Regions from separate parts of the Homo sapiens genome. Here regions 1 and 2 are each linked to region 3. Evidence: fine-mapped expression QTL. A gene starts in region 3. Each other region holds a variant in brackets. All regions are shown on one strand. Distances are from middle to middle. Region 1 overlaps RMDN3 (regulator of microtubule dynamics 3). Region 2 has its middle 26 kb from the start of CCDC32. Region 3 holds the start of DNAJC17 (DnaJ heat shock protein family (Hsp40) member C17).

What was found. PIP is the estimated chance that this variant, and not a neighbour inherited with it, causes the effect.
Region 1: its variant is fine-mapped to the expression of DNAJC17 in whole blood (TOPMed, PIP above 0.99). The same link has a PIP of 0.9 or more in cerebellum and tibial artery.
Region 2: its variant is fine-mapped to the expression of DNAJC17 in unexposed skin (GTEx, PIP 0.93).

The regions. Positions count from the first base shown.
Region 1 is chr15:40,735,084-40,743,260 of GRCh38, forward strand. RMDN3 (regulator of microtubule dynamics 3) reads right to left here. Exons shown (of 13, transcript NM_018145.3): 7 at 5,050-5,110; 8 at 3,418-3,493; 9 at 2,882-2,959; 10 at 2,545-2,643; 11 at 2,205-2,258; 12 at 2,041-2,121; 13 at 804-1,511. The coding sequence ends at 1,458. Among named protein-coding and RNA genes, the nearest start is that of RMDN3, 16 kb to the right of the region's middle. RefSeq lists an enhancer at 5,446-6,318. The variant TC/T (reference allele first, on the strand shown) is at 4,216.
Region 2 is chr15:40,535,382-40,543,558 of GRCh38, forward strand. It overlaps a transcript of CCDC32 not described here. Among named protein-coding and RNA genes, the nearest start is that of CCDC32, 26 kb to the right of the region's middle. The variant G/A (reference allele first, on the strand shown) is at 4,798.
Region 3 is chr15:40,804,177-40,812,335 of GRCh38, forward strand. DNAJC17 (DnaJ heat shock protein family (Hsp40) member C17) reads right to left here and starts at 3,297. Exons shown (of 11, transcript NM_018163.3): 1 at 3,193-3,297. The coding sequence starts at 3,270. ZFYVE19 (zinc finger FYVE-type containing 19) reads left to right here and starts at 2,913. Exons shown (of 11, transcript NM_001077268.2): 1 at 2,913-3,692; 2 at 4,943-5,064; 3 at 5,232-5,282; 4 at 5,676-5,794; 5 at 5,895-6,040; 6 at 6,473-6,581. The coding sequence starts at 3,414. RefSeq lists enhancers at 2,576-2,665, 3,126-3,175, 3,216-3,265, 3,896-3,945.

The DNA.
Region 1 (8,177 bases), 69 kb before region 3:
TCTACTAAAAATACAAAAAAAATTAGCTGGGCGTGGTGATATGCCCCTGTAATCCCAGCTACTTGGGAGGCTGAGGCAGGGGAATTGCTTGAATCAAGGAGGTGGAGGTTGCAATGAGCCAAGATCGCGCCACTGCACTCCAGCCTGGGTGACAAAGCGAGACTCCAGCAAAAAAAAAAAAAATCTGGGTTGGTATAATAAAGACACAGTGACATTCTAGATTAAGGGGTTGGTTCTTATATGAAAGCATCTCAATCTTTTTTTTGAGACAGAGGTTTGCTCTTGTTGCCCAGGCTAGAGCGCAAGGGTGTGATCTCAGCTCACTGCAACCCCTGCCTCCCAGGCTCAAGTGATTCTCTTGCTGTAGCCTCTCTAGTAGCTGAGATTACAGGCGTGCGCCACCATACCGAGCTAATTTTTTCTGTCTGTATTTTTAGTAGAGATGGGGGTTTCACCATGTTGGCCAGGCTGGTCTCAAACCCTTGGCCTCAAGTGATCCACCCGCCTTGGCCTCCCAGAGTGCTAGGATTACAAGCAACAAGCATGAGCTACCACGCTCGGCCTATGCATCTCAGTCTTAAATTTTCTTCTAGGTGGATTTAGGGGTTTGTGCTCGTGGCCCTAAAAATGAACATGAGAAAGGCAGGGAGTACCTGCTTAGTTGCAATAGGCCTTGTTTAGGCTAAAAATAAGCTCGATACCTGTATTTTATATACTGTAAAGAGCATTAACCATAACCTGCCTGCAACAGCCTCTGTAGGTAGAAACAATTATGGAGGTGTCAAGTAAGAATAAAGAGCTGATAACATCAAATTTGGTTTATTTCAAGTTTGTAACAAAATATATTCTAGGCAACTTTTCAGACATTGTTTTATAGCATCATAAACCCCATACCACTGCTGTCATTCCAAAAGCTGCCAGGACACTGGAAGTTATCAAGTGGTCCAGCCCAGGAATACAGGTAGAATTCACATGATAGGTGATAAGAAAGCAATGTCTGTGGGCCACTCTGATCCCTCTTTTTACCTTGGTAGGTAAGGTATGATCTTAAGACTATATGTACTGAGTCCTATTAGTCAGTGAAAAAGATTAAAGTGACAAGTTATGTGCTTTGTTCCTATAGCTTTGAAGTTCATCCACCTCACCAGCAATTGGAAGGTCTCAGGTCTTGCAGGCTCTACCCATGTGTAATCCTGGGGCAGGTGTGAATCTTGATTTTTTTAAGAGATTACTCAAGGGAGAGAACAACAGAAACGGAAGCCATGAGTACTGCCCCAATTCTAGATTAGGTTAGAGGTTAGAATAAATTAACTAATGGGGAGTGGTAGTGGGTAGCAGTCAGACCCAGGAGACAGATTTGTGTGGTTTCCTGATCTCAGCAAGGTCTAAGGAAAAAAGCCTCCCCGCCCCCCCACCTTAAATAGTGGCATCAAGTCATGAAGGCCAGTGAAACGTGGTTAGTCTCGTAAAATGACTTCCAGTTCTTCCAGGTCCTTCTGGATAGCCAAATCCTAGGGAGACAAAGAACAAATCTAGGGCTCAAAATTTAAACCAGCATTTTCCCAAACCAGTGGAACCTAAGAAGAGGGGCCCTTTGCTTCCTTCCTGAGCTCTGCTACAGTCTTTTTCCTACTTCCCCAGGATAGCCTGGAGCCTATTAAATCTGTCTCTTCCCCTAGAGGTAGACTCTTTTTTACTAGGGAAATAAGACCTCTAGGAAAGATTATTTTCTAAAAATGTCACATGATGATTCAGTGATGACAGGCAGTTTTGTTTGGTTTTTTTTTGAGATGGAGTTTTGCTCTTGTTGCCGAGGCTGGAGTGCAATGGCACGATCTGAGCTCACTGCAACCTCCACCTCCCGGATTCAAGCGATTCTCCAGCCTCAGCTTCCCGAGTAGCTGGAATTATAGGCGTGCGCCACTAGGCCCAACTAATTTTGTAATTTTAGTAGAGATGGGGTTTCTCCATGTTGGTCAGGCTGTCTCGAACTCCCGACTTCAGGTGATCTGCCCAACAGGCAGTATTAAAAAGCCTTACCTCCTTCGTGACATCTGGCAGCTCCAGGGCCAACTTCATCCACCATCTAGCTTCAGAGTTTTTCCCTAGTTCTCTGTAGCACTGAAAAGAGACAACAGTGAAACCTGATACTGTGTACTTTCAGGAGTTCCCAGATCTATGTTGAAGTAGACAAATGAGTTTACCTTGGAAATATATACCCTTCCTGCTTTGGAAAATCCTGGCTGTAGTTCTTCAGCCTGGGAAAAGGGACAAAGATATTTCAGTAAGAGGTTCCTATATTCTAATCAGGCTGAAGTTTATTAAACTAGATTTCTAGTCCCCAACCATGTGGCTGATTCAGTGGGTCTGAAGAAACCTATATTTTTGATAAGCTGTGCAAGTGATTCTGGTTTTCCCATAGAACAGGCAAACACAAAATTGCCCCCGACTAGGAAAACCCCTCCCATTAAGGGTCTCAATAATGTCCTTAGGAAAAAACAAGGTTACCCTGGTGTTTTTGCCTGCCACCTGCCCCTCTCATACCTTTAGGAAGCTCTGGAGGGCATCTTCCACAGTGGCACTGAGAGGGCTTTCAAGCAAGGCTGTAGCAGTTTTTTTTTCTAGCCAGCTCAGGTGAGAGACCTGCCACAAAAAGATCAAGGTGTGTATAAGAGGTTTTAAAAGGTTTTTTTTCTTTAAATCTTTGGGGATATATTGAAAATAGGGTCAAACGGGGCTGGGTCGAACCACCAATAATACGAGCATTCAGAAGAAAGGGCACCTGAGCCAGAGAAGGCTGAGGATCTTGTTCTTCCTGGCAAGGAAATCGGTGTCAGAAGGCATTTAGGACCATTATGTCAAGCACTGAAACGCAGCTTACCTGATAGCACCACCTGCCAAGAAGAAAGTGAGCCATGGGGTTTTCTGGCTGGAGAGCAATGGCTTTGTCCACATGCTCCTAAGGGGAAAATGTAAATATAAACTAACATCAGACACCAGAGTTGCTAAAAGAGAGGCAAGGGCCGGATGCAGTGGCTCATGCCTGTAATCCCTGCACTTTGGGAAGCTGAGGCAGGTGGATCACCTGAGGTCAGGAGTTCGAAACCAGTCCTGGCCAACATGGTGAAACCCCATCTGTGCTAAAGATACAAAAATTAGCCGGGCATGGTGGTACATGCCTGTAATCCCAGCTACTTGGGAGGCTGAGGCAGGAGAATCGCTTGAACCCAGGAGGTTGCAGTGAGCCAAGATCACACCACTGCACTCCAGCTTGGGCGATAGAGTGAGACTCTGTCTCAAAAAAAAAGAAGAAAGGCAAGTCACTGAGGCTGTAGAAAAGTTTTTGGCAGGGAGCTGGAAAGGAGTGGGGAATCTGGGATAGGCCAGCACAAGGAAGGAGGAAAAGCCTGTCCTCACCTTGAAGCTAAAGCCACTCTGGATGCGCCTCTGGATGCTCTCATGCTCAGCCAGCTGACCACAAAGCACCGCATACCTAGGGGGGAAGCAGCAAGCTCAGGGACAAGGGCTGAGTACCATCACTGCAAGGAATGGATGCCCCAACCACAGCCTAGTTGCATTGTCCCCTATCCCTGTACCCTCAACTAGAGCTGAAAATACCTAATTTTCATCTGTACGTAATCCCCATTCTTTACGGACCTCTGGCCCCAATTAGTATTCTTTAGTAGATAATGGTAGGCTTACAAGTCTCCAAAGTATTCTAGGTATAAAAAAAGCTGGGTTCACCACAGTAAATCTCTCTTACACAGTAAATCTCTCCTACACTCATAAGGAGTACAGCCACAGGCATTAATAAAAACTTGAAAAGCATGAAAACAATCAGCATAAAAGTATGAGACCTGACTATACTACTTATCTTCTGGGCAGACAAAAAAGTGGGTCTCATTAGCCTTTAAGCATACAGGTGTATCACTGGGACTTGGGAAGCAATTTCTTAGGATAGTCACATTGGGAGGGGATATTCTAGGAATTTCTGATGTTACTTGGAAACCAACAGAACCAGAGGAAGAAAGACCTCCTATATATGCCTTCTCCCCCACATCCCCCCTCCCAAAGGGAACCAGCCAGCCAGCTTCCCATCATCTGTCTTCAGAAACAAAGTCTTACTTCCCCATCCCCCCAGCATTGTTCCTAGCAGCACAGTTGACATTCGATGAGTAACCAGCCCAAGTTGCTTTTTCATGTATATGCTAAGTA[TC/T]CGGGGGGTATCAGATACTTCTAGAGGCTCATTTCCATGTTTAATCCAAACAGCTGTTCCTCAGGAATAGCTGTTCATCCTTGGAAGCCCAGGGAAGCAGTGACACCCAAGAAACAGTTACCTGGCCTCTGAGAAGAACCCTTGCAGAGACAAAAGTTTCAGCAACAGATGGAGAAACACAGCCTCTCACTTAGCTCACAGTCTGAGGGTGGAGACATGGAAAGCAAGGGTGGCGGTGGGAAAGGAAAGGAACATTTTCACTAAAACTCAGGTGCTGGAACCAGACCCCAGGATATGAGTTAGCCGTGGCCCAGGTAAGCTGACAGAACTTTGCCTCACATGAGACCACAAAAAGGGCTGATGTTTTTGCAGCCTAATAAATTGACCACTAAACTTCTGGGGGGTGAGCTCACATCTACTTTTCCTCACATGAACCAAGCAAAGAAGCCAAAGTACCAGCAGCCAGGGATCACACGCAGGGGAAAGAAGAGCTTATGCAGGATAGGGGAGCTGCAGATTGTCCCAGCCTCCTGAGAGCCAAGAACTCCAGTTTTGTAGCTAGGATGACTCTTAACAAAGCTACTCATTTCTCCAAGCCCCATCAGAAAAAAAGCTTGTATTCCCCGCTTGCCTCATCCCTAAGCCACCTCCCCTACCAGAAACTTCCCTTGTCTCTGGCTAGGGGTAGACTGAGGCATGTGGAGATACAAGCCAGAACTCCCTCTCCTGGATCCTTTGGAAAATGCCTCTGTGGCCCAGGCAGAGAAAAGAAAGGGCTGTCCTCTGCTTTGGCCCTTGCTGGCTCTTCCCAGAACACTGCAGGGTGTTATTACCACAGGTGACAGTCAGCACTCTCATCCCCCTTCTCCAGAGCAGCCTCTGCTTCTTCTTTTCCTGTAGGACGAAGGTAGATCCAGAGTTGACATAGCTCTTATGCACACTTTCATAGGAAGGCTTGTGGGAAGAATGACTGCTTTAGCTCTCACCAATCCCTACCCAGCTTGGACTTGTTTGGAAATAGTTGTGAACTTGAGCAGAATGAAAGGCCGCAAAGAAGCCAGTCACAGTGGCTCACGCCTCTGTGCTGTGTAATCCCAGCACTTTGGGAGGCTGAGGCGGGTAGAGCGCCTGAGGTCAGGAGTCGGAGACCAGCCTGGCCAACACAGTGAAACCCCATCTCTACCAAAAATACAAAAATTAGCTGGGCGTGGTGGCAGGCGCCTGTAGTCCCAGCTACTCAAAAGGCTGAGGCAGGAGAATCGCTTGAACCCAGGAGGCAGAGGTTGCAGTGAGCCGAGATTGCACCACTGCACTCCAGACTAGGTGACAGAGCAAGACTGTCTCAGAAAAGGCTGCAAACGGCTTCTAAGGGAAGACTTCAGGGATGACTTCTGCTTCACCTTGGCTTCCCCATCTGTCATTAGAAACCCCAGTTACCTTCTTTTTATAATGCCCACCTGATGTGCTTGAAGCAGATTTTAGCATTTAAAATATAAAAGGATCCAGCCAGGCACGATGGCTTATGCCTGTAATCCTAGCACTTTGGAAGGCCGAGGTGGGTGGATCACTTGAGGCCAAGTGTTTGAGACAAGCCTGAGCAACATGGTGAAACCCTGCCTCTACTAAAAATATAAAATTAGCCAGGCATGTTGGCACATCCTGTAGTCCCAGCTCCCCAGGAGGCTGAGGCAGGAGAATCACTTGAACCTGGGAGGCAGAAGTTGCAACGAGCCAAGATTGCACCACTGCACTCCAGCCTGGGCGACGAACTCCACCTCAAAAAAAACAACAACAACGGATCCAACACAATCAGAAATTGTCCCCAACAGACCTTACTCTGGAGGGGCAGTGTCCATGAATCTCAAGTTGTATAAAATTTAAGTAAGTGGGGAGAGAGATCACAGCTTTGAAAAAATTCCCTAAAGGGGATGGGTACATTGGCTCACACCTGTAATCCTAGAACTTTGAGAGGCCAAGGAGAGGATAGCTTGGGACCAAGAGTTCAAGACCAATCTGGGCAACATAGGCAGACCCCATCTCTTTAAAAAAAAAAATTCTCAAAAGGATCCACGATCCAACAATATTAATTAGCTCTAGGCCAAAACTCTTTCACAAGAGCCACATGGACTGAGGTCTGACCAGAGATGACGTTCACTTAGTCTTACCCGAGTTTTCTAGGTTAGTGTTCTAACAAAGAAATGAAAGCCCATAAACATGAAAGTTCTGACAAGCGTCACTTAAGAGTATCGAGGCTGGAGCTTACGGACCACCAGATAAGGACCATCATGCCTATGCACTGGAGAAGACACTGCAACATAGGATTTTTTTTTTTTTTTTTTTTTTTTTTGAGACAAGAGTCTCACTCTGTCGTCCAGGCTGGAGTGCAATAGCACGATCTAGGCTCACCGCAACCTCCGCCTCCAGGTTCAAGTGATTCTCCTGCGTCAGCCTCCCGAGTAGCTGGGATTACAGGTGTGTGCCACCACACCTGGCTAATTTTTGTATTTTTAGTAGAGACAGTTTTGCCTTGTTGGCCAGGCTGGTCTCAAACTCCTGACCTCAGGTGATGCGCCCACCTCAGCCTCCCAAAGTGCTGTGATTACAGGTGCGAACCACCGTGCCCAGCCAAGAATTCTTTGAAGAAAACAAGTTTGGAAGGGAACATGGAGAAAATGGAACAAATGTAATGCATTGAGGTGGTAAACTGGCTAATCTGAAATGTTTTCCTTTTTTTATTTGAGACAGGGTCTCTCTCTGTTGCCCAGGCTGGAGTGCAGTGGTGCAATCTCAGTTCACTACAACCTCTGCCTCCTGGGCTGAAACAATCCTCCTGCTGGCATGTTCCACCACCATGCCTGGCTAATTTTTTAAGTTTTTTTTTTTTTTTTTGTAGAGACAAGGTCTCACTATATTGCCCAGGCTAGTCTCTAACTCCTGGGCTCAAGCAATCCTCCTGCCTTGGCCTCCCAAAGTGCTAGGATTATAGGCATGAGCCACCACACCTGGCCACAAATGCATTCTTAAGACAACTGATGCTGTGAAAGACTCTACCTCTCTTCCCAAAGAGAGGGACCACATGGCCCCACCAATGAGGGACGCTGCCTCTTTGGGGATTTCTCTCTGCCCTCTTCAAAGTACTGTCTCACTAGGAAAATAATAGCAAAGAATGAGACAACTAGTTCCTGCCAAGCTAGACAGACAGTGTTGTAGACAAGACATTGCCTGAGACCCCACAGAATGACTGCCTCCTGGTGGTCCAGCTCCTAGAGATACAATGAAATAAACTTTATACCCAGTAAGGATAATTCTTAAAGGCTGTGATCTCAGAGCAGAACCTTCAAAGACATTCCATAGTCATCTGACCTCCAGCAGGTAAAGCTTTGTCCATGGGTGCTAAGCTCAGGAGGCCAGACCAACCAAGTGCTGCCCTGCTAACCACTGCCTCCACTTCTGTCTTTGGGGTTCATGCTGGCTACTAGCACTAATAAGAGATGACCAATGATCAAGAGGGAAAGGAAAGGTTGTTGACATGAAGAGTCCAAAAATCAGCCCAAAAGCTGAGAATCCTCATCTGAAATTTAGGAGGGAAAACAAACTTTTGGAGAGAAAAAGTAATCATAAATAAGCATCTTTTGTTAAAACTTCCAGGAATTTTTCTGAGGGTCTACAGAGACATCCTACTCAATTGGTCTGTTCTTTCTCCATTGACAGAATTCTACAAATGTTTAGAATGTTAACTTTGAGGTACTGTTTGAGTATACATTATCAAGGATTCAATAATATTTGTAAGGCTGTACTTACAATAGAAAGGTAGACAAATCCATTTTAGACAGTTAACTGGCCAGGCACAGTGGTTTATGCCTGTTATCCCAGCACTTTGGGAGGCCTAGGTGGGTGAATCAGTTGAGGCCAGGAGTTCAAGACCAGCCTAGCCAACATGGCGAAACCCCATCTCTGCTAA
Region 2 (8,177 bases), 270 kb before region 3:
TAATGCTTTATATTTCTAACCCTTTGCAGTTCAAAAAGTGCTTTCATGAGCATTCTCTCATTTGATCTAGGGTGTTTACAAATTTATATTTTGAAGGAGTTTTTCCACATATTGAAATTGGGCCTATAGATTTATAGTTTTCAGGGCCCGCCCCTTCTCTCCTCCTCCACTCAGCTTCCTTTCGTTCAGTCTTCAGGCACTTCATGGTTCTTTATTCCTTTTCACAACCAAAAAAAAAAAAGAAAAAAAATAGTGCATGCTGAACAACACACCAGGCTCCTTGCTAAGTCTCTCCAAAAGCAGGGAAGTCATCAGTGTGCGGGATTTGAGCACATGTGGTTTATTTAATCATTCGTTCATCTTTCTCTGATTGCAGTGGAGTTTCACACGTTCCACCATATGCTGTCCCTGAAATGCTCTGCACACACTAGTGAGAGCCCATGAGGGGGCCTAGCCTTTGCCTTCCCTCCTTGTCTGCCAGGATTGAAGGAGGAAATCAGGTTGGGAAAGTCCTGTGGGACCAAATTGTGGAGGAGCTTGACTGCTAAGCCAAGGACTCCAGACTCTATGCTGTCAGCAAGAGAAACATAGGTATTTGATCAGAGCTGCCCATGAGGAAGGTTAATCCAGCAGCGACTCCCTTAATCCAGCAGTGACTCCCTCCAGCTTCAGCCCTTCCCCAGTCTCAGGGTTGGAGGGAGTGTCTTTTGCTGGAGTCCCCCAAAGGGGTCCCAAGTCACCAGGAGACACAGGACTAGCGATCACCCAGGAGGCCTGCAGCCTGGGTCTCCACTGTGATTGAGGCTTCCTAACTCTGGCTTCTTGGGCTTCCAGAAGCACTAATGAGCAGGGCTGAGCAGTAATTAAGACTGTGCTCTGTTCCACATCATCACGCAGCACAGCTGCAACTGCTGGGAGGAAGGGGAAGGAGAGAAGACCGGGAAGATGCCTTTAGCCCTGTCTTCCCACTCTGAACCTACTTGCTCTCAGGCTCTCCAGTGCAGCAAGGAGGGGTTGGTAAAGCCATGGGATGAGGGAACAGCTACAGGAGATGGCTGCCCAGGGCTGGGGAAATAGCGTTCAGACACCAGCCAGCTGTTGCTGCTCCATTCTGCATCCCAGGTGGGGTGCCAATGGGCCAAGCCATGATTTTCTCAGAGGTGAGGACCCCTGTCTTGCAACCAGCCTGGCACTACAGGCCCTGCAGCAGGAGGGGGCTGTGATCTGGCCAGGGGGAGCTGGGTGGAGGACGAGTATGACACATGAAATTATGAGTCTCGGACCTTCTCTGGCTCACATCCCAGAACAGGGGCCTCTCTTGGCAAGGGCCCACTGCAAGAACAAGTACTCAATGAGCAACACAGAGCCAAGCTCTGGAGGTTCACAGGTCACACTACAAGCCAGTTCATTCCACGGAACACACTCTCCAGTGGAGAAGTGGAGGTCAAAACAGAGTCATGACTGCTACGATGGTGATGAGAAAAAGTTCCATGGGGCCACAGAGTCACCTAGGGTCGACTGAGGACAGCTTCACTTATATGGTGGCACTTGAACTGAACCTTGAAGTAGAAGAGGGATTCACCAGAAAATATGGTTTTGGCAAAGGGAATAGAGAACAAAGGCAGGTGGCATGAGATAGTCAGCTGCCAGGAGACGTGGTGGGCCTGGCCCAGAGCATGAGTGGAGCGAGAAGGGAAGGATTCTGGAGAAAGGAACCAAGAGAATCTAGAATTCTAAAGGACCACCAGGGGCTCCAGGCCTGGCAGGAGCAACTAACAGGATGACCCACCTTCCCCAACTTACACCACCTCAGGCGCTGGGCAGATGCTCTGTGACTTTATCAGTATCCCTGGGGAGTGGTGCCAGCCCCAGGTGCTGAGCTGGAGGGGGGATCACAGAGGAATCAAGGGACTCAAGGAGGGAAGGCAGCTGGAGGGAAGGGGCTTGGGCAGAACGAAAGAGGAAGGGGCTTGGCCCTGGGCTCTCATCCACTCCTGAAGCCCATGCAGGGAACAGTGAATGATGCAGTGCCTGTGTCCCAAGGTCCCAGCCTCGTGTGGGACCATCGGGGCACTAGCAGCCTTCCTGTCTCCTACCCCTTGCTCTGGGGGCCACGGGTACATGAAGGTTTCCAGAACCCAGGGAAGAGGCCAGAGGTTCAGTAATAGCTCTACAGGAGCATAACTAGAGAGTGATGACCAACTCCCAAAATACAGAATGTTTATTTTGAGCTCCACAATACATGTCAGTCAGAGAAAGGTTCGAGTCTCAAAAATGCTGGCTCTTGGCCAGACGCGTTGGCTCATGCCTGTAATCCCAGCACTTTGGGAGGCTGAGGTGGGCGGATCACTTGAGGTCAGGAGTTCAAGACCAACCTGGCCAACATGGTGAAACCCCGTCTCTACTAAAAATAGAAAAATTAGCCAGGCATGGCAGTGGGCACCTGTAATCTCAGCTACTGGGGAGGCTGAGGCAGGAGAATTGCTTGAACCTGGGAGGTGGAGGTTGCAGTGAGCCGAGATGGTGCCACTGCATTCCAGCCTGGGTGATAGAGTAAGACTCCGCCTCAGAAAAAAAAGCTGGAGCTTCAGTAATGCTGACCACTTTTAAATATATGTAATCAGCACTCATTTCAAATAGTCTTTTAGCAGCATGCTAACTTATGACTACAAGGTCTGCGGTCCCCTCTCCTGCCAAGTGTCCCCTTCCCCTGTACAAGTGGCCCAGAGGCAGTTCTCCAAGGGGATTTGGGGACTGTACTCCTGTATAAAAGAAAGCCTGTGGTGCTGCTGTGTTAAGTTACCCACCTATTGGCTGGTGAGTGCCCCCTTCATGTCTTTCCTGAAGGTAGATTTTCAGTAAATAAGAAGACCACATTTTTTATTCTGAGGCTATGGTCTTGTTTTCCATAGCAGTGTGTCCCAGAAAGCTCGAGATCTCTTGCATGGCCATGATTTGAAAGTCTGGAAATGGGATCCACTGGTAAGCTATGTTCTCCATGGAGCTCACCTGAGGCTGCCCTGCACCCCTCGCCTCTCCCTCAAGGGGTCACAGGGCACCTGTGGGCACCTCTTTCTGCTGCCTGTATGTCCGCCCCAATAGGAGAAAGAGGGGGCATAGAGGGAAATGAGTCTCCTTCACTGGTTCGAATTAGCGGGAAGCCTGTGAGTCCAAGCCCCCCTCAAATTCAGGCAACGACCAATCCGGCTTCCCTTTCTGTGCCCTTGTCAGAGAAGAGGCCGCTGGGCCCAGGCCTGTCCCTTTCCTCCAACCTGGCAGGCATGGGAAGCAACTGTGGAGGAATTTTAGAGCTGGGAGAAGCAGAGGGAGGATTGGAAAGCCTTTTATTTTCTTTGAACTTTTCCATTTAAAATATTTCTATTTTTAAAAGAATAATTTGGTTCTTTTTAATTTAGCATGTTTTCCTTAGAGCAATAAAGGCTTTTGCAATATGGAAAAGGTGACATTTGATCTGAAGGAGTCTGGGGGAGCTCTGAGTATAGGGAACTGACCTTTAGTACCCACCCATGAGCGCTGCCAACTGGGGGCCTGAGGTCTAGTGCTTGCCACAGGTGGGCTCACCGCAGGAGCCTGCTGGTGACCAGCCTGTCCCTCTTCCCATGGGTTCTCTAGCTGGCTCTGACTAAAGCCCTGTCTCTCTCTTGGCTCTCTCGCCAGCTGTCCCACTTCTCAGCTTCTCCCTTTCTTCATTCAGCCCAGCCCAGAAGCCCTGAGGGCTGGGCCAGAGGGAAGTAGTTGTTGCTGTTTCTCCCCAGCTCCCGCTCAAACCTGACACCACAGAAAGGTCAATCCCACATGGTTCTGCACATCCCTGCCTGGCCCGCCCTGGCTGTTACCATGACGACTGCTGGGCTGGAAATGTCCTTCGCCACCTCTGCTCAGCACACTGGTGGCTGTCCCACGCTCCATCCTCAGAAAAGCTGCTGCTGCCAGGGGTTCTGGAGTTACAGGGCCTATGGGAATAAGACAGACCGACAGAGACGAGGAAGATAGACAGATACAGTCAGAGGCACACACTAACAGAGTCAAAGAGAGACAGGCATACATAGGAGCACCGAGAGTGCGAAGGTGCGAGGAAGTGAGGTGTCGACACAGCCTCAGCCGTGCAGGACTGCAGGAAAAATAAAGCAAAGTGGAGCCTGAGACAGAGACAAGAGACAAACGGAGGCACAGGGGACACGGGGGCCCGTGGCACCACAGCAAGAGGCCAGGCAGAGGAAGAGAGGAAAAGCAGAGACCAAGGCAGTCAGCTCTCCGCTGCCCCTGCTCCCATCCCAGGAAATTTCCTTGCCCAATAGGTCTCTCTTGGCCTCCTGCTCTCTGAGATGTCAGGCAGGGTCTGTCTGAGTTGATTTGTTGGCCAGGCTGTTCCTCTGGCTGGACAACATTTGCCACCTTAAGAGGGGCCCTCCCCTAATAAGAGTGATCAAACTGTTGCCACACACACACACACACACACACACACACACACACACACACCCCGCTCCTTGCCCTTGATTCCATGTCACCCCAAACTCATCATAAATACCTACTCAGCCTCACTTCGCCCAGGTGGTGAAATGGGCATTGGAACAGTGTGAAGGGTTGATTTTCAAATTGCGGCAAAATCTAGGGAATAAGTGTGAACCTCAGAGATGATGATGCCCCTGGAGGTAATGAATGGGCAAGAGGAGGGAAAAGACAGACTGAACAGTGAGTACCAGACAAGAGTGTGGGGCCCAGAGGGTGGGAGAAGGGATCAGGGAAGAGAGAGACAGGCTCAGAGCTCTGACTAGG[G/A]CAATCCAGAGGAGTGGTAACAGGAGGGCTGGGCCAACTGGATTGGCCTTTAGTGCCTGGCAGGGAACACTGCCTCTAACATCAGTGCCATGATTTCCCATCTTTGAAGTGTCTCCAAGGCTTTGAGGGAGGCTTCTCAGGGTCTTTGAATTCTTTGTCGTTCTTCTTAGCATTTTTTTCTTTTTCTTTTTCTTTTTTTTTTTTTTTGAGGTGGCGTCTCGCTCTGTTGTGCAGGCTGGAGAGCAATGGCGTGATATCGGCTCACTGCAACCTCCGCCTCCTGGGTTCAAGCTATTCTCCTTCTTCAGCCTCCCGAGTAGCTGGGATTACAGGCGCCTGCCACCATGCCTGGGTAATTTTTTGTATTTTTAGTAGAAACAGGGTTTCACCATGCTGGCCAGGCTGGTCTCCAACTCCTGGCCTCAGGTGATCTGCCTGCCTTGGCCTCCCAAAGTGCTGGGATTACAGGTGTGAGCCACTGCACCCAGCCCAGCATTTTCTTCTTAGAAAATGATTAGGCTGTCAATACAGGAAACTCTGGGGCCGGGCCAGTCTCTCATCTATCCTAACCTTGACCACAGTGTGAAAGGACAGTAGAGTCAGTGCCCCTAATGTCACCATGTTCCAAGCTCACATATGAGTGTTGAACAGGTGCCAGCCTGGAGCGTCCATTGCCCTGGTGCCCTCAGTCCAGAGAGCCCAGTGAGAAGCTGGGCCAAGAAGGAAGACTTGAACCCAAGAGAGCAGTGTGTGGACATTCAGACTAGGCTGGGCTGAACTCACCCCCGGGGAGAACCACTTCCCACACTGGGCCACAGAGACCAAAATGTCAAAACCAAAGGTCCCGCACAGCCCTGGAAGGCGGATCCTGGCCTGGGCGGGAAAGAGACTGTGCCAGATGCTCACGCGCTGCCTCACATCCCTCCAGCCCATTTCTGTGACCAGCCGCAGCTGCAGCGGATGCTTCTGGTACATGCTCAGTTTCCCTCCTCTCTCCTCTGCGTGAGGCTTTTCTTAGCCCCTGCAGGGCTGCCTGAAAGTGGCAGGGGCTTAATACCTCCAAAGAGCAAACCTCAACCAATGAAGGATGGGCACTGGTGGAACTGCAGCCCAGATGTGCCCCGTCAGTCAGTGGCAAAATTCTGAGCTGTAATATTTTTTTTTTTTTTTTTGAGACGGAGTCTCGCTCTGTCACCCAGGCTGGAGTGCAGTGGCTCCATCTCGGCTCACTGCAACCTCCGCCTCCCGGGTTCAAGCAATTCTCCTGTCTCATCCTCCCAAGTAGCTGGGACTATGGGCACACACCACCAACCCGGCTAATTTTTGTATTTTTAGTAGAGACATGGTTTTGCCATGTTGGCCAGGCTGGTCTCGAACTCCTGACCTCAGGTGATCCACCCGCCTCAGCCTCCCACAGTGTTGGGATTACAGGCCACCGCGCTTAGCCTAAGCCATAATCTTTATGTCTCCTCAGAGTGATCCCAGGGCGACAGCCCTAACTACCCACAGTGGACCTACTCAACACAGGGAGCTGTCTCATTCTCCTCCCTCCCTCACTCCTGCTCACCCCCTAAAATCAGCCACCTACATACAGGTCCTTGTCTCAAGGTACACGTTCAGAGAACATAAAACAGCACAAGAGCGACCTTTTTGTGATCTTCCAACCCAAGAGTCTGTCCCTCAGGGTTGAGCTAAGATAAGAACTGTTGGAGGGCTCTGCCTCTGACCACTGACTGGTAGGTGATCAGGTGTTTGTCATTATTATCTAGGGAGGAGAAAGAAGAACTCACCAGCTCTCCCTCCCAAATGCTGGGGAGACCAGGGCTGACTTAACAGCAGCAAGCCCCCATAGGTCTCCAGTAGCCAACCACAGATTTTCATAATTGGAAAGGACCTTAGGGGTGACCTGATCCAACTTTCTACACAATGCAGGAATCCCCTTTACAACCTTTCTGACATCTGCTGACACACCTCCAGTGACAGGGAATTACTATCTTCTACAAGGCCACCCTATTGTTGAACAGCTATTAGAAAGTTCTTAACACTGAATGGTAATTGGTCTTCCTGAAACTCCCTGCCATTGGTCCTAGTTTGTCCTTTGTACTTCAGTGTGTCTCAGCTTTCTACCCAATACTCCTTCAAATATTTTAAAGCCAACCGGGTCTCTCTTAAATCTCTTTTCTATGGAAAACAATCTTATTGTCTTGTCCTGTCTTCAAATAACTCGATCTGAGCCTGCTCACCCTGGACCCCTCCTCTAGGGAGCATTGCAGTTTGTCGATGTTCCTCTGTAGGAAAAGACCCTGTTGCAAGAATGGCACCACCTTGAAGCAAAACTGCCATAATGACTGATGTTTGACTCCTGCATACCAAGGCATTCCTGTGGCAAGGTCAAGAAACAATGCCTGGGCCGGGCGCAGTGGCTCATGCCTGTAATCCCAGCACTTTGGGAGGCTGAGGCGGGAGGATCACGAGGTCAGGAGATTGAGACCATCCTGGCTAATACGGTGAAACCCCGTCTCTACTAAAAAATACAAAAAATTAGCCGGGCATGGTGGCAGGCACCTGTAGTCCCAGCTACTCAGGAGGTTGAGGCAGGAGAATGGTGTGAACCCGGGAGCAGAGGTTGCCACTGCACTCCAGCCTGGGGGACAGAGCGAGACTTTGTCTCAAAAGAAAAAAAAAAAAAAGATGCCTGGCCAGGTGGGGTGGCTCATGCCTATAATCCCAACACTTTGGAAGGCCAAGGTAGGAGGATTGTTTGAGCCCAGGAGTATGAGACCAGCCTGGGCAACATACTGAGACTTTTCTTAAAAAAAAAAAAAAATTAGCCAGGGGTATAGTCACAGCAAACTCAGGAGGCTGAGGAGGGAGGACAGCTTGAGCCCGGGAGGTTGAGGCTGCAATAAGCTGTGATAATGCCACTACACTCTAGCCTGGGTGACAGAGCCAGACTCTGTCTAAAAAAAAAAACAAAATGGAAAAGAAAGAGAAAAAAGAAAAGAAAGAATGCCTGTAGCATAAATAACCCCTCATAAAGATGCTTATCTAACCTCCCCAGTGGTCATGAAACTTGCAATAAAGTCTGAGGTGTGACCAGCTGCACATGTTTTCCCCTAAAAACTTGTTATACAAAGGATACTTTCTGGAGGGCGGGCATGGAAACCACCATCTCGTGACCAACCAAGGTATGGCTTCTGTGCATAAGTTTCTATTAAGCATTTATCTCTGAGAAACTAGATTCGTCAGCCTCTCTCTCTGTTTTGTTTTTGTTGTTGTTGTTGTTGTTTTTTTGAGACAGAGTCCCACTCTGTCGCCCAGGCTGGAATGCAGTGGCATGATCTTGGCTCACTGCAACCTCTGCCTCCCAGGTTCAAGAG
Region 3 (8,159 bases):
CCAGGCTGGTCTCAAACTCCTGGCCTCAAGCGTTCCTTCCACCTTGGCCTCCCAAAGTGCTGGGATTGCAGGTGTGAGCCATCACACTCAGTCAAATACTTTCTTTAAAATCCAATTATGGGCAGGGCACAGTGGCTCATGCCTGCAATCCCAGCACTCTGGGAGACCAGGCAGGAGGATAGCTTGAACCCAGGAGTTCGACACCAGCCTGGGCAATATAGCTGGACCCCGTCTCTGGAAAAAAAAAAAAAGCAAAAACAAACACAAAACAAATTAGCCAGGCATGATGATGCACACCTGCAGTCCCAACTACATGAGAGGCTGAGGTGGGATCACTTGAGCCCAGGAAGTCGAGGCTGCAGTGAGCTGTGATTGTGCCACTGCATTCCAGCCTGAATGACAGTGAGATCTTTTCTCAAAAAATAGACATAAAAATAAAAAAAAAATAAAATCTGATTATGTAACTTCTCTAATTAATAGAGAATGACTTCCAACTGACTTCCTCAGGAGTTCTCAACTTCAGGGTTAGAAACTCTAGATTTCAGCCGGGCGCGGTGGCTCACGCCTGTAATCCCAGCACTTTGGGAGGCCAAGGCCGGCAGATCACTTGAGGTCAGGAGTTCAAGACCAGCCTGACCAACATGGTGAAACCCTGTCTCTGATAAAAACACAAAAATTAGCTGGGTGTGGTGGCACATGCCTGTAATCCCAGCTGCTCAGGAGGCTGAGGCAGGAGAATTCCCTGAACCTGGGGGGCAGAGGTTGCAGTGAGCCAAGGTTGCACCACTGCACTCCAGCCTAGGCAAGAGAGTGAGACTCCGTCTCAAAAAAAAACCCTCCAGATTTCCCACTTGGATCTTTTGTGAAATGTCTCAAATAGTTTCTCACTATTAATAAAGTACTAATTAAATAATTTGCAGGCAGGGCATAGTGGCTCACACCTGTAATCCCAGCACTTTGGGAGGCCGAGGTGGGAAGATCACGAGGTCAGGAATCCAAGACTGGCCTGGCCAACACGGTGAGACCCCGTCTCTACTAAAAATACAAAAATTAGCTGGGCGTGGTGGCGGGTGCCTGTAATCCCAGCTACTTGGGAGGCTGAGGCAGGAGAATCACTTGAAACAGGAAGGCGGAGGTTGCAGTGAGCCGAGATCATGCCACTGCACTCCAGCCTGGGCCAAAGAGTGATACTCTGTCTCAAAAAAAAAAAAAAAAAAAAAATTAGCCGGGCGTGGTGGTACATGCCTGTAGTCCCAGCTACTCCGGAGGCTGAGGCAGGAGAATCGCTTGAACCTGGGAGGCAGAAGTTGCAGTAAGCTGAGATTGCGCCACTGCACTCCAGCCTGGGCGACAGAGCGAGACTCCGTCTCAAAAAATAATAATAGGCCGGGCACGGTGGCTCACGCTTGTAATCCCAGCACTTTGGGAGGCTGAGGTGGGCAGATCACGAGGTCAGGAGATCGAGACCACGGTGAAACCCCGTCTCTACTAAAAATAAAAATTATTAGCCGGGCATGGTGGCAGGCGCCTGTAGTCCCAGCTACTTGGAGAGGCTCAGGCAGGAGAATGGCGTGAACCCGAGAGGCGGAGGTTGCAGTAAGCCGAGATCGCGCCACTGCACTCCAGCCTGGGCCACAGAGCGAGACTCCGTCTCAAAAACAATAATAAAAAATAATAATAATAAAGAATTTAAAAAATAATAATTTGTAAACATAGAGCACTTAGAATACTATCCAGAAAAAAAAAATACTGTCTAGGACATAGTAAGCATTATACAGATGTTAGGAATTATTAATCCTAAAATATTGAAACACGAGAGAGGTGGAGCAGATGCTTTTGATGCTTCATAGACATCCCATGGCCATTTCTGATTTCAGCTGCGGCTGCAGGGGACAGATTTGTGCAGGTTGACAGCATTTCTCAAGGGCCCTCTGGGTCTCTCTGATTTTCTGCCCCAGAGCTTCCTCTTCTCAAAAGCTCACTCACCCCATGAGCAGGGCAGCCCAGAAGTACTGGGACATTAGTGGGCACTATTTTTTTTTCCTTTTTTTTTTTTTTTTTTGAGACAGTCTCGCTCTGTCGCCCAGACTGGAGTGCAGTGGTGCAATCTCAGCTCACTGCAACCTCCGCCTCCCGGGTTCCAGTGATTCTCCTGCCTCAGCCTCCCAAGTAGCTGGGACTACAGGTGTGTGCCACCACGCCCGGCTAATTTTTGTATTTTTAGTAGAGAAGGGGTTTCAGCATATTGGTCAGGCTGGTCTCGAACTTCTGACCACATGATCCGCCCGCCTCGGCCTCCCAAAGTGCTGAGATTACAGGCGTGAGCCACCGCGCCCGGCCTAGTAGACACTAATTTTCTTTCTTTCTTTCTTTTTTTGAGAAAGAGTCTTGCTCTGTCGCCCAGGATGGAGTGCAGTGGCGCGATCTCGGCTCAGTTGGGCACTAATTTTCATTTGATGAACGCCTCTCCTTCGTATATTGTTAAAACTACCACCATGATCCAGGGGGAGATAAAAGAAATCCTAAATCCAGCTTGATCAGTGTTTCACTCCCTGGCATCTTTATCACCACCTAAGGTAGCATGGACCTCTATACCATCTGCCTTAACCTTCTGATCCTCCTGCTTTTAGCCCACTAACTAGCACATGCTGAGAAGGGCATCAGCTACTTGAAAAGAGTCAATGGGCTTGAGTGGAAAAGAAAATAGAGACAGCAGGGTCATCGGTCACATTGGCAAGGGGGCATGAAAAGGGAGTGGAGAGGCTTTGAGATCTTACTTTTCTTTCGTTCTAGGCTCTTAGTGGAAGAATTAAATCAGCCTGCAGAAGAGACTGAAATGAGGCACCTCTTGTCACAGTCAAGGCAGAAGCGGAAACGGAGGCCGAGACTGCGCAGGCGCAGAGGAGGCTAGCGTTCCTTGCTGCCTCGCCCCGCGGCCTCTAGGAGACAGGGGCCACGGGGAGAGCACAGCCACCCGGCGCGAAGAGCCCTCTGTACCCCGCTTCCTCTTGAGGCCCTCGGACCGTCCAGGAAATGTCTGGGAGCCCGCCTGCGGAGGGCATAGCGCCGACCCTCGCTCCCCGCCCAGGACCCGAATGAACCTGGAGAGCGGATGCCAGCAGTGGCCGAGGCGCTAGGACAGGAAGGACCGCCAGACCTCTCAAGATCAGCCTTCCTCGCCACCGTTCTCACCTCTTTGTCCGCTGCCTTCTCCTCAATGCCTAGCAGCGCGTACAGGTCCATCTGTAAGAGCTCCTTGGTCACTGCCATGGTTCCGGCCTGACGGATTCGTACTACAACTCCCAAGAGTCTAAGCGCGCGTGAGGACTGCAGGCTCCGAGCGGCGCCTAGCCCTCTGGGAATTGTGTTCTGGGTCAGGCTTGACTGACTCTGAGGGAGGCCGGCAGTCGTGAATGAACTACGACTCCCAGCAGCCCCCGTTGCCGCCGCTGCCGTACGCTGGCTGCAGGAGAGCGTCCGGATTCCCTGCTCTAGGTCGCGGCGGGACAGTGCCAGTGGGCGTGTGGGGCGGGGCAGGGCAGGGAAGGGAAGGGCGGAGCTGGGGTGAGGGTCCAAGGGGCCCAGGACTTGGCCGGCGTGATCTCAGCTCTGCAGACCCTGCGGTGCTGGGAGCCACCATGGAGAGTAGGTGCTACGGCTGCGCTGTCAAGTTCACCCTCTTCAAGAAGGAGGCGAGTCTTCCCTCCCCGAGGGCTGCAGGGCCAGGGAGGAGAGGAGGGAAAAGCGCGGGACTTAACGTCCAAAGACTTGGTCTTACGGCTCCTTTCCAGCTGTGTGGTTTTGATGAAGTCATTGATCCTCAGTTTCCATTTCTGTAAAATGGGGCTAACATTCTCTCGCTTTCAGGGTTTATGTGAGGGTCCACTGAAGTGCTTTAGGTGAGAGTTCCCTATAAACTGTAAAGCGCGCTGCCGTCGTTTTTGCAAAGCTACTCTTTTCTGTCGGCCCAGTGTAGCATCTGGCGGTTTTCTTCTCTCCACCCTGCTCCTCCGAAGCGCGGTGTCCATCACACCAAGCCCGTTACTCCCTCTGCTCTGAAATCTTCCCCATCCCGCAGCCTGCCCTTCTCCAGGTCGCTGGAGTTAGATTACCACACTTCCTCCTGCTTCCGGGGCACCATGGTGAAGGCTGACTGTCCTGTCCCTATCACAGACCTGCCAGATTCCTCTGGTAAACTGCAGGTTCCCTCTGCCTCAGTTGTGGCCAGGGATTCTGACCAGGAGATGATGGGAACTAGATGGAGTAAATTAGTGTCACGCAGGAAGGCAGGACCGTGCAGCATTCACCAACCTGGATTTTGGAGTCAGCGTTCAAATCTGAGCTCTGCTGTCTTATTGAGGCGGTGACCTTGGTTTGGATAAGTTATGTAACCTCTCTGGCCCTCTCAAAATAAGGATAATCACGGTTGGCATCAAGATTAAGTAAAATAATGTGTGTAAATTGTAAGGAATAAATCACATGATGAATGTTAAGTACTGGGTTTAGTGCCTGGCACATAGTAAGTGCTTAATAAATGGAGGCTATTGTTAGCCCATCCTGAGCCAAGCCTCCCTCCATCTCTGCAAGAGCAGAGGAGGCATCGGCTCTGCCCTGTCTCTCTGATTCTCCTTTGTGGAAGAGTCAGTGGCCTGAAATACTGGGCTTTATCTATCTGTCTTCTACATCCCTGGGTCAGGGAATTGAAGACAGGGTAGAAAGCATGGGAATTTTGTATAAACCTTCATTTGGCTTGAATAAGGTACTGGAAACCGAGGAATTGCTTTACTCACCATCCCTAGGCCTTAGGGGCCCCACTCCTCTTCTTCCTCCCAGCAGCTGGTCATAACTTCAGTGACTTCTCTCTGTGTGTGCTTGGAGAGTCCCTGGGAGCAGCCTGCAGGGGCGGGTGAGAGGGGGATCTCCCGCTTCATGTTTCTTGTAGTACGGCTGTAAGAATTGTGGCAGGGCCTTCTGTTCAGGCTGCCTAAGCTTCAGTGCAGCAGTGCCTCGGACTGGGAACACCCAACAGAAAGTCTGCAAGCAATGCCATGAGGTCCTGACCAGGTAAGAGGCAGGCATGGGTGAAAGTTCAGCCAAGTATGGCAGTGGGCATCTGGCCAGCCCTCACAGCTTTGTACTCTGTCGCGAGAGTCAGCCGAGGAAGTGTTTGGAGTGGGGGGCACTGCCTGGTGGGATGGCAGGATTTATAACACTAGATTTCTTCTCTGTAGAGGGTCTTCTGCCAATGCCTCCAAGTGGTCACCACCTCAGAACTATAAGAAGTAAGTGCTGAAGAGAAAAAGACAAAGAGCATTGGGGAAAGGATAAGGGAGCCATAGGGAAAGACCCTGCCCCCATCTTCTAGATAAAATGAGCACAGAATCAGGAGAATTCTCTCCTCTCTGGCTCCTGACTGCCCTCTTGGGCTGGTAAAGCAGCTCTTCAGCCCTCTCTCCAGGACAGGCACTTGGTAGAGCTTGTCCTTTCAGCTGGACCGTCTGGCTGGTCAGCCAGGTTGGGCTGCAGGGTGACATGAGTGAGGGGCACAGCAGATTGCCCATTGGAGGCCTCCCTAAGTGCCCAGAAATGATTTGATTTGAATGGGAAACAGTGAGTGGGTGCCTTCACTCTTCCCCTCTGCCTTCTTCAAGAGCCTCTATCTCATATCCTGCCAGGCGTGTGGCAGCCTTGGAAGCCAAGCAAAAGCCCAGCACTTCCCAGAGCCAGGGACTGACACGACAAGACCAGATGATTGCTGAGCGCCTAGCACGACTCCGCCAGGAGAACAAGCCCAGTGAGCAGGGGCAGATGGGGTTGCCTAGAGGACACAGTCCAGGGCTTCTGGGACTGAGATGCCTCTGGCCCTTACAAGGCTCCCCCCATGCCAATTGCAGAGTTAGTCCCCTCACAGGCAGAGATAGAGGCACGGCTGGCTGCCCTAAAGGATGAACGTCAGGGTTCCATCCCTTCCACCCAGGAAATGGAGGCACGACTTGCAGCGTTGCAGGGCAGAGTTCTACCTTCTCAAACCCCCCAGCCGGTGAGTGTTATGGCTTAGGAGAGAAGCGGGGGTGCTAGCGGGAGGACCCAGCAGAAGCCCAGATACAGGTATTGGGGTGATACAAAAGTAATTGTGGTTTTTGTCATTACTTTTAATTGCAAAAACCTCAGTTACTTTTGCACCAACCTTTGTACTTTATGTACTTTGCAGGAGTTGGCAAAGCCTCCCACCCCTACCTCCTGATCCTCAGGCCTGCTACCAGACCCGGGGACCAGGGACAAACAGCACGATAGGGTAGGGCAGGAAAAAGTGGCCCCTCAGTCCTGTTGGGGACGGCCAGACCTACTTGATTATGTGGGCCCTGGATCCCTCTCCTTTCCCTGGGCTTTGAGAACTACTTAGCATCCATCCCTGACCTAGACTGCTTCTGGGCTACCCCTGCTCTCCACTGAGGTTTCCTCGTCTGTGCAGGCACATCACACACCGGACACCAGGACCCAAGCCCAGCAGACACAGGATCTGCTAACGCAGCTGGCAGCTGAGGTGGCTATCGATGAAAGCTGGAAAGGAGGAGGCCCAGGTAACCCCTCCACTTGGCTCCCTAGGAATCTGCCCTACCTCTTTCCCCAGACTGGAGAGGCTCTGCTGTCCACCCTCTGGGAGATGAATATAAATCGGAGAGTGATCAACGTTATAAGAGTTACCATTCATTGAGTGCTTACTCCAAAGGGAGCCAGTGTAAGCCTAGTGTTTAAGTGCACGGGCTTTAGAATCAGACAGTGATTCCCATTTCTACCACGTATTAGCTGTGTGATGCTGGACAAGTTACTTGACCTAAGTCTCACTTTCCTCATGTGTAAAATGAAGGTATGTATGGAAAAACCTACCTCACAGGGAAATCAGGAGGAGTAAACGAGATAATCCAATAAGTGCTTGGGAACATACCTGACTCATAGTGAGTACTCAGTGAATATTCTCTGCAATCATGATGTTGATAAGGAGGAAGAAGCTATTTAGTAAAACCAGCCACATCTCAATGCTCAGTAGCCATATGGGCTTCATGGCTACCATCTTGGACAGCACAGATATAGAACATGATATGGAATGTTTCCATCATCATAGAACATTCTGTTGGACAGTGCTGTTTGAAGGCTTCAGAGCAGTGGTTTTCAACAAAGGATGATTTTGCCCCCAGGCTACTTGTGGCAACATTTAGAGACTTTTTGGTTGTCACAACCCAGAGGATATTACTGGCACCTACAGGATAGAAGCCAGGGATGCTACTAAATCTACTATGTCACAGGACAGCACATCATGATGAAGAATTACCCGGTCCAAAGTGTCAAGAGAACTAAGATTGAGAAGTCCTGCTTTAGAGGCACAATCTCATTGAATATCCTCAATAATCTTATGAGGCCAGGTGTGGCTCACGCCTGTAATCCTAAGCACTTAAGGAGGCAGAGGCAGGAGGGAGGATAGCTTGAGCTGGGGAATTTAAGACCTGCCTGGGCAACATAGCAAGACTCTGTTTAAAAAAAAAATCTTATAAGGTACATACTATTCTTTTTTATAAATGAGGAAACAGGCCTGGTGAGCTTGAGGAACTTGACCAAGGTCACACAGCTATTAAGCTGCAGAGATGAGACTTAAACCTAAAGCTGTGATTTTAAACCTCTTGCTCTGAAACACTAAACTGAAGGTGACTGTGTCAGAGCCACACCTAATCTGGTAAAATTCTTCCTGCCCAGTGATATACAAGCTCTTAGCTTCCTTCATTGCCCTCTCTGTGCTAATCCCAGGAGATGCTAATTCCTGCCCTGAAAGGCAAAGAGATCGGCTGAACCTGGGCCTTATCATGTCTTGATCCTTTAGGGCAGTGATTCTCAAACCATAGGACGCCCACCCTTAGGGCAGAATGTTAAAATATCAGGTAGATGGGGATGGATGTGGTTGGAAAAGACATGGGTAAAATTATTAGTTTTTTACATTTGGAAAAATGGAGGAATACTAATTTTATTTGTGATAGAAACCATAGGCGCTAGTGCTGAGCAAAAAGCTGATGATCTGTGATTAGAAAGGGTTGAGAAAAGCTGGGCATGATGGCTCACGCCTGTAATCCCAGCACTTTGGGAGGCTGAGGCGGGTGGATCACGAGGTC